Regions from separate parts of the Homo sapiens genome. Here region 1 is linked to region 2. The links come from fine-mapping of genetic effects on gene expression. Tissue or cell type: whole blood. Region 2 holds a variant in brackets; the other region holds the start of a gene. All regions are shown on one strand. Distances are from middle to middle.

Region 1 (2,683 bases), 28 kb before region 2:
GGTCTCGCTTGTCTTTCTCGTCGCTCCAGCCCAGCGACTCGATAACAGAAGCGATTTTCAACATCTCCTCCCGGGCCCAGGGGTCCGACGGGTCGGTATAGGCCACAATGGCCACGAACTCAGGATTATCCAACTCCTCTGTTTCTTGGTCCCCACTTTCCTGCGAGTCGCTCTCCGAAGTGTCGCTGTCCACCGGCTCCTCGTCCGGGGTGTCTCTCACAGCCAGCAGGGCCACTAAGTCGGGGACACCATTTTTGTCTTCTTTGGTGTTCAAGCGGATGGATTCGGCCCCAGCTGGCTCCTTCTCTGCCTCTTCTTTCTTCGATTTGTCGGTGACGGTGACCAGAGCCAAGAACTCGCGGGGACCGTCTTCTTCCCCCTCGGAGTTGCAGGGCGCCCACTGCCTAACCAGCTCCCTGGCAGCGGCCTGCAGCGTGGCGTACAGCGCGCTCTGGTCCTCTTCTCCGCTCAGGTCGCCCTGGTCGATCTCCTCGATCACGATGCCCAGGCTCTCGTCGGAAGAGTCCTCGGCCTCACTCCTCGCGGGAGCAGACGGCCGTCCTCCTCGGCTTCTCTTCTTGCCCTTCTGGGTCAACCTGTTGCGTCTGGTTCTGTTTCTGCGACCCCGACGGCCCCTCCTTGGGTTCCTGGCTGCCCCAAGAAGCGAGCCAGCCTGCCCTGTTACCTCCCCAGAATCCTGGGCCTGCGTCTCCGAAGCGGGAGGGGTGGGTGCCTCCCCGGGGGTCCCAGCCTCCGCGGCCTGCGTGGGCCCGTCATCCAGCAGCAGGCGTCTCATCTGCCTCAGGACCCTCGTGTCCTGCGCACGGTCCTTCCACAGAACCCTCCAGACCCCATCCTTGCCTGGGATCTCCCTGGGAATGGCAGCGTGATTGACGTCCTCCACAAACTCCACCAGGGCGGCCTGGGCCTTCTCGTTCATCAAAGCCTTCATGTGTCGCAACCTGAACGTGCCCAGGGGCAGGAGGGTCGGCTGCAGGACGGCTTCGACGTCTGCCTGCTCCAGGCCCTCCGGGATGCCGGTGACCAGCAGGGCCCTGTGCGCGTCCACGTCCAGGCTCCGGCACCAGTCCTGCAAAAGGCTCATGGCCATGGTGCAGCCCCCTTGGCGCTGATCTTGGGGCAGCAGGGAGCCCGAGATAGGGGTGGGCTGCAGCGCACGGTGTCAATGCAACCCTAGAAAGCCACTTGCAGGGCTTAGAGTCCCGGTTCCGGTGAATGTGGCAAGGCTGGAGTGGGGCTCGGGGCTCGGGGGCTCTAGCTGCCTGCTGGCCGGCTGGACGCAGTGACCTTCCCCCGGGACCCCTCTCCAGAGCTGTCTGAGGATCCGCGGGGGGCTTACGTGTCTGCTTTCCAGGACAGCTCCCTCCCTCTCTCCCTGACACAGGCCTGAGTGACTCGGCACCGCAGCCAGGTGCAGGGGGGCGGCGCCGAGTGCACCTGGAGAGGCGTGGGAGGTAGCAGCCGCAGCTTGCCTGGCGCTCGCGCCGCGTCTGAGCGCGCACCCTGGGCCTGAATCTCAGCAGTTCCGCTGCGACGCGGCTGCTCGCGCGTGCGCCTGCGCAGAGGGAGCCGCACACCCTCCCCTGTCCCCCGCCCAACCGTCTCCATGGCAACGGTGCAGCCTTGAGCTGGGGTCTGCGTCGCTGTGGCCTGAGACGCTTTTCTTAAAGGTCCCGATGACAAGGACTTGGGGCCTGGAAGCACCACTTTCATTAACCAGCAAAAAACAAGGCCGAAACCACAGAGGGCCAGAAATCACTCAAGGATACCCGACCTCATTCAGGGGATAGAGGCCTCCTTCCAGAGGGTACCGGCATCACTGGGGGTTACAATTCCCCCTTCCAGGGGCCAGGTGGAATTCAGGATTATATAGGCCTAAATCAAAGGGCACTGGCCTTGCAGCGTAGGACCAGGACTTACTCGGGATACTGGCCTCATTCACAGTATATGGGTCTCAGTATCAAATAGGGGGGCCCAGGCACCACCTGTGAGCAAGACACCATTCAGGGTATATGGGCCTCACTTGCAGGGTACAGGCCCCACTCGATGGGACCGGCCCTCACTCCCATACACGTTCCTGTATTCTGAACTATGCATGCACAATAAATCCTGTGGTTTTGCACACGCTTTGAGCATATGTATGATTGTGAGACCAGGCATGAATTTTGCAAGAAAGCATTTCCCTTGACTGGGACAGCAGACTGGGGCGTGTGAACGTCAGTCATAGCTACTGTAAACATGCATTTGCTTCTCTGTCCCTTGTTGGCCATGAGGCTGTCCCCTACTCTATATGAATCTGGCTCTGTAGACCAGCTGGTAGGTTTATATCTCAACCATCATCCCTACCTCAAAGGGTTTTGTTTTTTTGTTGTTGTTTGTTTTGGAGATGGAGTCTTGCTCTGTCACTCAGGCTGGAGTGCAATGGCACAATCTTGGTTCACTGCAACTTCCGCCTCCCATGTTCAAGCGGTTCTCCTGCCTCAGCCTCCTGAGTAGCAAGGATGACAGGCCTCCCAAGTAGCTGGGATTATAGGCATACACCATCACGTCTGGCAAGTTTTTGTATTTTTTGTAGAGATGGGTTTTTACCATGTTACCCAGGCTGGTCTCAAACTCCTAACCTCAAGTGATCTGCCCGCCTCAGCCTCTGAAAGTGCTGGGA
Region 2 (2,683 bases):
TTAAAAAAAAAAAAAAAAAAAAAAGCTTTCTTTCACTCCTCCAGTCATCCTGCTCTTTTCTAGTTTCTGGATAATCAATTTGACCCCCAAAATGTGAAAACACAATTCATTGTTTTCAGTCAAAAGTTGTATTTTTCTTTTCTTTTTGAGACAGAGTCTTGCTCTGTTGCCCAGACTGGAGTGCAATGGCGTGATTATGGCTCACTGTAGCCTTGACCTCCTGGCCTGTAGTGATCCTCCCGTGTTAGTCTGCCAAGGAGCTGGGATTACAGGTGTGAGCCAGGGCACCCAGACTTCAGTATGAAGTTTTCTCTCCCTTCTCTTACCTTTCTCATATAAATCCTGTTTTGCTTTTGAACGTTGACAACAGTCCTATGACCATCTCCCTCCCCTTTGCATGCCAGTGTCCAAAACAAAATCAGATCCAATGAATAAATATTTAAAAGTTTGTTGTCATTAAAAAAAAGTGGGGACAGGGCACAATCCAGGAGACCTCAACCCAGGTAGTAAGAAGCTCAGAGGCATGTTGTTACAGGATGGCTGAGAAAGCAAAAATCAGGAAGTGGTTTAACCTTTACAGTGACTGTCTATACAGTGGAGGTTTCCAGATTGCACGGGACTGGTTAAAAGCAATCCTCTTATATCATTTGGGGAAGGCAACTTAAGTTTCGTTTATGATTATCAGAGGCATTTGTAAGAAATAACCTAAGCTGGCTGGGTGCGGTGGCTCACCCCTGTAATCCCAGCACTTTGGGAGACTGAGGCAGACAGATCACTTGAGGTCAGGAGTTTGAGACCAGCCTGAGCAACATGGTGAAACCCCGTCTCTACTAAAAAAAAAAAAATACAAAATACAAAAATTAGCAGGGCGTGGTGGTGCGTGCCTGTAATCCCAGCTACTTGGCAGGCTGAAGCACAAGAATTGCTTGAACCCCGGAGATGGAGGCTGCAGTGAGCAGAGATCATGCCACTATACTCCAGCCTGGGTCACAGAGCAAGATTCCATGAAAGAAAGAAAGAAAGAAAGAAAGAGAGAAAGGAAAGGAGAAAGGAAAGAAAGGGAGAGAGATAGCCGGGCGTGGTGGCTCACGCCTGTAATCCCAGCACTTTGGGAGGCCAAGGTGGGCGGATCACGAGGTCAGGAGATTGAGACCATCCTGGCTAACATGGTGAAACCCCGTCTCTATTAAATATACAAAAAATTAGGTGGCGGGCGCCTGTAGTTCCAGCTACTCGGGAGGCTGAAGCAGGAGAATGGCGTGAACCCAGAAGGCGGAACTTGCAGTGAGCCGAGATCGCACCACTGAACTCCAGCCTGGGCGACAGAGCCAGACTCCATCTCAGAAAAAAAAAAAAAAAACAAGGGAGAGAGATTGAGAGAGAGATCGAGATCTAAGTTGAGTTTCGCTTACATTCAAAAGTCAGAGTACCTTAGGTTTTGCTTATGTGGCCTGATTTTGTCTTCTTGGGGAATTCTCAGTCCGGATCCACCCCCCCTAGTTTTGTGTGTGTGTGTGTGAAACAGGGTCTCGCTCGGTTGCCCAGGCTGGAGTGAATGGCACGATCGCAGCTCACTGTAGCCTTAACCTCCTGTGCTCAGGTGATC[C/T]TGTTGCCTCAGCCTCGCAAGTAGCTGGGACCACAGGCATGCACCACTTTGTGCAGCTAATTTTTTTTTTTTTACTTTTATAGAGATGGAGTCTTGCCATGTTGCCCAGGCTGGTCTCAAACTCCTGGGCTCAAGGATCCTCCCAATTTGGCCTCCCAAAGTGTTGAGATTACAGGTGTGAGCCACTGCGCCTGGCTCCCCCCATTTTATTTTAACAACTTTCCCCTTTTGACATAGCAAGCTGAGGGGGTAATGAAATCGTATAGCATTACTTTCTGGGAGTGCTATTGGCTGGGACAGATGGGTGTATAGTCATTTTTGATAGCTGCATAGTCATCTTAGACATATGTGGTAGAGTCCTTAGGTTCTCCAAGTTGTCTAATGCAGATGGGTGTCATTAGTTGCATCAGTGGCTGTTGAGAGGCATTGGAAACCCTTAAGAGGATGCAACTCCCAGGGAGGTTAATATCATGACTAGGAGGAGAATAATATAGCCAAGGGTTGGAAAATTCACCAGAGGAGAGATTCCCAGGAGCCAAGATGTAACCAACTAAATAAATAAATGGAAAAAGTATCACCTATCTGATAAGATTTACATCTGTTCTTTAAAATCCTCTGAAGTGTGGGCAAAAATTCTTGATATATTAACACAGAAATGACAGCTTCATTCATTATACCTCCTTTTTGGGCAGTTAGAGTAGCTCAGACTCATACATTTTGTGAAATTATTGAAGCAAGGCTAGAAACCTCGGTTTGTAAGCCTTGGAGGAAATTAACAGTGTCATTGAAGTTTTTTTCTAAAGTTTTAGAGCATTTATAATAGCCCCTTCCTTCCTTCCTTCTTTTTCTTTTTCTGTTTCTGTTTTTGTTTTTTGATATGGAGTCTTGCTCTCTTGCCCAGGCTGGAGTGCAGGAGTGCAGTGGCATGATCTTGGACCACTGCAACCTCCCCTTCCTGGGTTCAAGCAATTCTCCTGCCTCAGCCTCCCAAGTACCTAGGACTACAGGTGTGCACCACCACACCCAGCTAATTTTAGTATTTTTAGTAGAGACGAAGTTTCACCATGTTGGCCAGGC

The links. PIP is the estimated chance that this variant, and not a neighbour inherited with it, causes the effect.
Region 1: it holds the start of PNMA8B, and the variant in region 2 is fine-mapped to the expression of PNMA8B in whole blood (TOPMed, PIP 0.97).

The regions. Positions count from the first base shown.
Region 1 is chr19:46,494,355-46,497,037 of GRCh38, forward strand. It overlaps PNMA8B (PNMA family member 8B), which reads right to left and starts at 1,513. Exons shown (of 1, transcript NM_020709.3): 1 at 1-1,513. The coding sequence starts at 1,111.
Region 2 is chr19:46,522,546-46,525,228 of GRCh38, forward strand. It overlaps the pseudogene PPP5D1P. Among named protein-coding and RNA genes, the nearest start is that of PNMA8B, 28 kb to the left of the region's middle. The variant C/T (reference allele first, on the strand shown) is at 1,607.